Linked DNA regions of Homo sapiens: region 2 is linked to region 1. The links come from fine-mapping of genetic effects on gene expression. A gene starts in region 1. The other region holds a variant in brackets. All regions are shown on one strand. Distances are from middle to middle. Region 1 holds the start of GAB3 (GRB2 associated binding protein 3). Region 2 overlaps SPRY3 (sprouty RTK signaling antagonist 3).

What was found. PIP is the estimated chance that this variant, and not a neighbour inherited with it, causes the effect. A credible set is the group of variants that fine-mapping cannot tell apart.
Region 2: its variant is the best candidate, but not a certain one, in a credible set for the expression of GAB3 in whole blood (TOPMed, PIP 0.58).

What each region holds. Positions count from the first base shown.
Region 1 is chrX:154,749,069-154,753,467 of GRCh38, reverse strand. GAB3 (GRB2 associated binding protein 3) reads left to right here and starts at 2,391. Exons shown (of 10, transcript NM_001081573.3): 1 at 2,391-2,514. The coding sequence starts at 2,443. RefSeq lists silencers at 2,436-2,515, 2,686-2,745.
Region 2 is chrX:155,696,930-155,701,328 of GRCh38, reverse strand. The region is part of intron 1 of SPRY3 (sprouty RTK signaling antagonist 3); the gene reads right to left. Among named protein-coding and RNA genes, the nearest start is that of TMLHE, 86 kb to the right of the region's middle. The variant G/A (reference allele first, on the strand shown) is at 2,310.

The DNA of each region.
Region 1 (4,399 bases):
ACTGTCATAATCCACGTTGAATGGAGCTTGATTGTTGTGAATGTTGTGCTGGTTTATTACACTGATGACATATGTACTGGACCTGATGATCTAGAGGTAGCGAATACTCTAGATGCTTTATTAAGATACAAGTACACCACAGGGCAGGAGATAAGCCCCATGAAAACTCAAGAGCCTGAACCTCAGCAAAGTTTTTAGATGGTCTGGACCACGTTGGGTATTCAACATGTTGTTGTACCGCTTACCACCTACCACTCAGAAAGAGGCACGGCATTTGGTGTGGATGTTTGAATTTTGTAGGCAACATATGCTACATTTAATTGTGCCGCACCAATGCACTCAGCAAGTCATCTGTAGGGTTGCATGTTTTCGGGGAGAGATCCAGGGCAAGAAAAGGCTCTGTGACAGGTCCAGGCCACTTGACCCTTATGACCATGTAGATTCAACAGGTACAGGACCTTTGACACACTGGGAGGCTACACGGAGCCTCTGGCAAGTCCCAGTAGGAGAAACACACAGCAAAGCCCTAGAGTTTTGAAGTAAACCATGCCCTCTACCACAAAAGAAGTATTTTCCTTTTGACCAACAGCTTCCAGCTTGCTCCTGGGCTGTGGCAAAGTCTGAATGCTTGACCATGGGGCACCAAAGAACCATGGAACTTCAGCTGCCACTGATAAATTTGGTGCTATTTCATCCTCTTTTGGAAGTGGAATATTTGAGACCAGACTCAAGCAGGTCTGGAAGGTACAGGAAAGTTGCTAGAGCAGGTGGCTCACATCTTTGTGGCCCCTGCTGCTGCATGATCACCATTCCCTGGACTTACACCCAGAATGTCGTAGGGAGTTCCTCATGACCAGGTCTATCGGTCAAGGTTTCAAAAGGAAGCAAACAGTAGACTCAAGGGGTTGAAATGAGGAAAGTATAATTAAGGGATTTTTTTTTTAACAGAGGTGTAAGCAAGACTTAGAGAATTAGCAATGCATAGTGGGGCTCTCAGGGACTGGCAACAGTTGATATGGCCACAGCCACTGCTAAGTGCTCAAGCTGCCCACAGGCAGAGACAAACAATGAACCCTTAATAACAGCATTCCCTGGGGGGACCAGACAGCCACCTGGACTGCCATCTGGAAGGGGCAGCAATTTTTTCTCACTTGAACAGGTACTAATTTTGTACATGGATTCGCTTTTTTAAAATTCACATTTCTGCTGGCACTCCTGCCCATTGACTTACTGAACCCATTATTCACACTGACATTATCTCACACAAGAAAATCATTATAAGCCAGTGTGCGCATGCTGATGGACTCCACTGGTGTTACCATGTTAGCTCATCACCCTGAAGCATCTGGCCTGATAGGATGGGAGGTTGGTCATTCTGTTGAAGATGCTAGCAAACGTCACATAGATGATACCCACAAAAAGCAGAGGGTGGTGCTTAAGTGGATGGGCTCTTGACACAGCTCTGGCTGCCTATGGATGATTTTCTCGTGTGGCTCTCGACAAGTGACACTGTCATCCTGTTTTTCATTTTAGTAACCTGCAAAATTGAGATAATAATAAGAGCCCTTTGACAGGGTGTTGTGTGGATTCAATGAGATAACGCCTGGAAAGTGCTTAGCACAATCGCTGGCATGGTGTTAGCTTGGCAGTAAGGAAGGTCACAAGTGTTAGGTGCTCATGATTGTTATTTTTACTTAGCGTGGTCAGCACACTAGTTGGCACAATCGACTTTAGATCCATCTTTTAAAACCTTCGAGTCAAAGAGATTGCAAACAGCACTACCTTTTGAGTTTGGGTCATTTGGGTTCATTAAGACATTTAGACCGTTTAGCCGGCAAAGCTTATCACTGAATACAACGATCTTTGGGGGAGGGACATAGAAAACACACTACTGTGCAAGCAATCAAGTGGAATAGGGAAGTCCAAGAGGAGTCTTGCTTTTGTTTCTCCGTGAACTATGCACATGGCAGATGCAGGTGGTACTTGGGTTTCAGCTCCAGGGTCCCTGAGACCCAGGGACCAGCCCGTTTGGCGTGGCGGATTGGGGATGGGGCATGAGGGCAACAGGTTCCAGGCTGTGCTCCCATTAGGTCGCAGGGCTCCTTCCGAGCGCTTTCTCGTGACCCTGGGTGAGAGTGGCAGGCGCCCTGCTGCGTAGGCTCCCCCCCCCACACCCCCCCCCCGGGCACAGCCGCTGGCGGAGCTGCAGTTGCTCGAAGGGGCTTCCCAGGCTTCGCTGCTTGCTTTTCCCGCCGTCTTGGGTTGCGGGCGGCGTCGGTTCCCTCCCCGGGGGCCGCGGCGGCCGGAGGCGGGGGTCGCAGCGGCCGCTCGGGGCGGCGCTGGGCGGGCGGGCGCTGGGCCCGCCCCGCCGGCATCCTTGGCCCGACTTCCTTCTGCCGCGGGCGGCTGGCCCAGCTGGAGGAAGCGGCGGCGGCGGCCACGATGAGTGCGGGCGACGCAGTGTGCACCGGCTGGCTCGTTAAGTCGCCCCCCGAGAGGAAGCTACAGCGCTACGTGAGTAGGGGCGCCGCCACCCGCCCGGCCTTCGCGTCCCGGGGCACCCGCCCGCGGGGCGGCCGCGGGGAGCCGCTGGGCTCCGGGCGCGCCAGGCGCAGCCGCTCCCAGCGCCCGGGACTGCGGGCGAGGCCGACGGACGGAAACCGAAATCGCACGTCGAGCCAGCTTCGCCGCTGTGCTAGGCAGCGGGCCGGAGACCAGGTGGCGCCTGCCCGCGGGGCTCAGGGACTCCAGACCGCCGCTGACTCTAGCGGAGGGAGGCGGGTTGGGGCTGAAACCTCAGGCGCCACTCTCCGTACAGGAGCGGCCAGGGAGACATCTCGAAAGCGTGCCCCTTTCTTTGGCTGGGGGTGGCTCTGAGACCCATCGCCCCGCGAAGGAGACGCGGCAGGGGATAGGGAGACTGACAGCCAGAGGGGAATTGCCTGCATTCCCCCTGGACCGTAAGGAGTAAGGAGTGCTGCTCTTGTAGCTGTCATCGGACACTGCTGTCTGGAACCCTACACAGTGTAACTCGTTTCTCATCGTGTAACTCCTTTCAGCTTCTTCTTAATGCTGACACCGCGCTTTTATAGTGCCAGCTGGACAACTGACTTTTACTAATATGAAATTAGGAATACTTGGAAGAGCGAATCTTCCTACCTATTCCATTACCGTTTTAAGATGTACTATCGACACCTCAAACGTTCATTATCTCCATCAGCGTCCTCACGATAAGGTCTTAAAAACATTCTGCTTAAAGACCTGATTGCTACTCAGTGTTTTTCAGCCATTAGGAAGAACCACTTCAGTCCCCAGGGAGTTGCATATAAATAGCTATTAGGACTTCTTGCTTTTTTTAGGCTGGGAGTAGCTGGATGGATTCATCTTGTTCTTAATTCCTAATTTCTCTGCAACTTCACTGCACGGTGGTAGGAACAAACTCGCGCATGTCTGCGCTCATCCAAAGCAGCCCACCCCAAATGTGGTTCAGCCTTGTGCTCTTGTCTATACAGTGCTCTCAAACTGCTGTCCTCTTCTGGCCAAATTTCACAACTGTTTTTGTTCCCACATAGATGAGGCACATATTGTGTGGAAGTTCAAGAGGTGGGATTATAAAAAGACTTTAATAATGTATGAATACTTCCAGAATGTGTGGCAGGAGATTTTCCTGAACATAGAGTTGCTCAAGCCCTCTTTCCCCATTCACATCGGGCTAGACAGTGTGTGTTTCTCTCTTAGGGGTCTTTGAAAAGATTTTTGTTGTTTGTTCTGCAGAACAGAACTTTAGAGGAAGGTTGTTCTATTTAGCACGTGAATATCAGGAGTGCATAAATACTGAGATTTCTCTAAGTGCCAGTGTGTCCCTACATCATTTGCTTTTGAGTCCAGGAGTCCATAAGCACAGGGTCCAATATCTCTTGGCCTCTGCATTATCCAGCTGCTTCCTTAACTGTGAAGCTACTCAAAGGAGGCAAGAGAAGAAAACCTGCTCCCATCACCTGCATGAGCAGGTGAGGCTTTTGTCACACAGTAGTGCTTGCAGTGTTGACTCAGGATGGGTTTCCTTGTTGTCCTTTGGAATGACAGACATTTTAAAGGTTCACTATACAATTTCAGTAGATGATACAGAAAGATGCCCCTGGAGGGCAAAGATTATAGAATATTTTATTTCCCAGTCTTTTTTTGTATCTTAAGCAGACTGGCTTAGGGAAGTTTATTAGTATTTCATCAACTTTGGGAAGGCATGAGTGTGTGTGCCTATTATCACACGCGGTTCATTCCTTTAGGGGATGTGGCAAGAGTGGACACTGCGCAGCTTAGAGATATGTGGGGCGTGTGATGATGGGGCAGTGACTAGACTTAAGACACAAGAGTACCTAGGTGTCATCTTACCAACACT
Region 2 (4,399 bases), 950 kb before region 1:
GAGATATCATCTCACACCAGTTAGAATGGCAATCATTAAAAAGTCAGGAAACAACAGGTGCTGGAGAGGATGTGGAGAAATAGGAACACTTTTACACTGTTGGTGGGACTGTAAACTAGTTCAACCATTGTGGAAGTCAGTGTGGCGATTCCTCAGGGATCTAGAACTAGAAATACCATTTGACCCAGCCATCCCATTACTGGGTATATACCCAAATGAGTATAAATCATGCTGCTATAAAGACACATGCACACGTATGTTTATTGCGGCACTATTCACAATAGCAAAGACTTGGAACCAACCCAAATGTCCAACAATGATAGACTGGATTAAGAAAATGTGGCACATATACACCATGGAATACTATGCAGCCATAAAAAATGATGAGTTCATATCCTTTGTAGGGACATGGATGAAATTGGAAACCATCATTCTCAGTAAACTATCGCAAGAACAAAAAACCAAACACCGCATATTCTCACTCATAGGTGGGAATTGAACAATGAGATCACATGGACACAGGAAGGGGAATATCACACTCTGGGGACTGTGGTGGGGTCAGGGGAGGGGGGAGGGATAGCATTGGGAGATATACCTAATGCTAGATGACACATTAGTGGGTGCAGCGCACCAGCATGGCACATGTATACATATGTAACTAACCTGCACATGTACCCTAAAACTTAGAGTATAATAAAAAAAAAAAAAAAAAGAACTTCATTCCTTTTTATGGCTGAATAGTATTCCATTGTGTGTATATGCCACATTTTGTTTATCCATTCTTCTGTTGATAGACTCTTGGATTATTTCCACCTTTTGGCTATTGTGAATAATGCTGCTATGAACATTGGTGTACAAGTATTTTTTTGAGTAACTCTTTTCCATTATTTTGAGTACATACCCAGGTGTGCTAATATGGTAATTGTGTCTAACTTGTTGAGGAACTGCCAAACTGTTTTCCACATCAGCTGCACCATTTCACATTCCTATTGCTAACTTATAAAGATTTCAATTTCCCCATATCCTCAACAACACTTGTTATTTTCCATTTTTTAATAATAGTCATCATAGTAAGTGTGAAGTGATAGCTTGGAGTTTTAGTTTGTATGTCTCCATTGACTAATGATGTTGACATCTTTTCAAGTGCTTATTGGCCATTTGTTTATCTTCTTTGGAGAAATGTTTATTCAAGCCTTTTGTCCATTGTAAGATGGACAAAAATGGTTGTCTTTTTGTTGTTTGTTTACAACCATTTTGTTTTAAAATGTTTTGTCTTTTTGTTGTTGAATTGTAGAAGTTTTTTATATACTTTGGGTATTAAACCTTAACATATATACAAAAAAAAAAAAAAAGAGATTAAGGGTTTCCATTTGTGCTGTGCCCCAGAGAATGTGTCTTTGTTCCTTTCTCATTCATCTCCAAGCAGAATTCTGTTGTTATTTACTATTTTAGGCTTTTTAGCTTGATGGTAGTTTGGGGTGTGGCCTCTGTTGTTCTGATTAAGAGTTAGTTATAGGCATGCACTATGTTCTTGCATCTTAGGTATATGATCTGATAGGTTTTCCTGACTCTCCCCAGCTGTAGTTGTAGGCTCAACATATAACCCTACTCCTTTCTCAGAAGTAAAGCTTTCCTCCTGTTCCCTTTCCCCAGAGGCAATAAGTGTTCATCAATGCCATAATGCCAGAGGTTCTGGTTGCCCTTCCCTCCATAGTTCAAGGCTTCATTTTCTGTATTGGAAGTAGAGGAGAAATATCCAGTGGGAGTTTCTTGTTCCTCCAGCATAGCTACTGATATCTTACTCCAAATCTGCATCACAACATACACTTCTAGAACGCTTTCTGATATTTTCTGGGAGCACCCGTTGAGGTTCATGGAGGACCGTGCAAGGTGACACTGACCCCTCCAAGTTCTTGGCACATAGGGGTTTCACGCTGTCTTGCCAGATTACTCTCAGGCTTCACCACGTTGTCAACTATTCTAGCTCAATGCTTCTTACAAGGTTCTTGTTGTGTCTTATATGAGTGTGTAATTTTGTCTTCTCTTTTGTCACATGCACCATTCTTTCTCCCTTAGATACGGGCCAACTGTTTGCTCTGAAACCCAAGCTCCCTGATGGGTTCAAAAAAACTATGAGTTCTAGAAGTTTTTCTGTAGACTCTTTGGGATTATCTATAGAGACACTGTTGTTGTCTGTGAATAGAGAGAGTCACCTTTCTTACTTTCCAATCTGTTTGTCTTATATTTCTTTTTTCTTACTTAAATCTTAGCACTGGCTAGGGATTCCAATACAATGTTGATTATGAGTG[G/A]TGTTAGTGAATATCTTTGCCTTCTTTTCAATCTTAGTGGAAACAAGAATTCAGTCTTTCATTATTATGATGTTAGTTATAGTCCTATGTGGATACCACTTATTAGGTTAAATTTTGATATAGGATATTCATTGACTGGGGAAATCTCTACACCATTGATTTTCACATGTAATACCCAACTACACGTTGATAGCCATTCCGTATTAATCAGCACAGTCTAACCAGATTGTCTCTAGTGCAAATGGGGAAGGAAAGAGTCACAAAATATTAAAGTGGATGGTGAAATAGGGATAGATAGTTGATTACTTGCTTGCTTCTCAGCATCCATTACTCCCTACTTCTGATAACAATACCTTGAATTCCCTTTTTGAAACTACTCTTCTCACATTCTCAACCATCTTGGTCAAAGTAATTGATTTGGGGATTGGTACACAATTCATTGAGAGCCTATAAAATGAAAAAAATATACTGGTTAAAGATAAGTTATTTCTCTTCCCTGGGAATTGATGGCATGAGGATGTGAGCTTTAGATAAGCAGAAAACATCTTGCCACCATATCAGGGTTAGCCTGAAGATGAAGTTTATACAGCAAAGAAGGAAGAACTAAGAGATGCAGAGAAATGGAATGTGGTAGACACTGCCAATTAGCTGACCCAACATCCATTCCCAAATCCATTTTTTATGTGGTTTGCCACTCTAAAGGCAGAAAAATCTGAATATTCACTTTATCATCCTCCTTTGTAACTAGATGTGGCCATATGACAGTTTGCCAAAGAGATATAAGTGAAATTTTGCTGAGGAATTTCCAACAATTTTTTGTTTTTTTCTTGATAAAGGGGACATATATGAGTGGTACTACTCATCCATCTTTATTTCTTGCATTGAATGCAGATTTGATCTCTGGAGCTGCAGCACTACTTTGTAGCCATGAAGTGACAAGCATGAGGGAAGTGCAAAGATAATTGTAAAAATTGTGACATTGTCAGGCTGCTAAACAAACCCATGAAGCAACCTACTTAGAAACTTCTTGATATATGATAATAATACATTCTTGTTTGAGTAAGCCTCTGTAAGGCATTCTTTACTAATATATGAACCACATATTCACTATTTTTTGAGAAAGATTGAATTAGGTTTTCTGTTATTTATAACCAAAAATTTCTAACTGATACAAATAGTATCATAATGGAATTTCCCTAGGGACTCAGGATTACCTAAGTTCAGTCTTACCTCATCTACTCTTCCTGCCCAAAGAGAAACCAGGACTCAAACTCAAATCCATGTCTAAGTTTCTTTATATGAGAAATGGGTTGCATTAGTCAGCGTTCTCCAGAAAAACAGAACCAATTTATACACACACACAGACACACACACACACACACACACCCCTACCTACAATGCACAACCAGGCACTATTCTAAGTGCTTTATGCATATAATCTCATTTAATCCTCACATTGTCCCACAATCAGATATATATGTGTATATATATATATATGTGTGTGTGTGTGTGTGTGTGTATGTGTATAATAAAAAAATTGGCTAATTGGCTCGTGTGTTTGTGGAGGCTGAGAAGTCTCACAGTCTTCCATTTGCAAGCTGGATATCCAGAAATGCCAATGGTGTAGTTCTAGTCTGAATCTGAAGGACTGAGAACCAGGAGAAAGGAGGCTGTAACTTCCCGTCCAAATTCAAAGGCAGAGGAAGACCAATGTCTGAGCTTAAGCAGTCAGGAAGAGAAAGAATCCACCTTTCCTCTACCTTTTGTTCTATTCAGGTCCTGAATGGATTGGATGATGCCCACCTACACTGGGAAGGGCAATATTTTTATTCAGTCTAACAATTCTAATGCTAACCTCATGTCGAAACACCCTCACAGACACAACCAAAAATAATGTTTAGCTAGACGTCTGTGCATTCCATGGCCCAGTCAAGTTGACACATAAAATTAACCATCACAGGGGTACAATAATAGTTCTTACTTCACAGGACTACTGTGAGGATTAAATGAGATGATATGCATAAAGCACTTAGAATAGTGCCTGGTGGTACATTGTAAGTACCCATTACTAGATTGTACTATCCTGATTC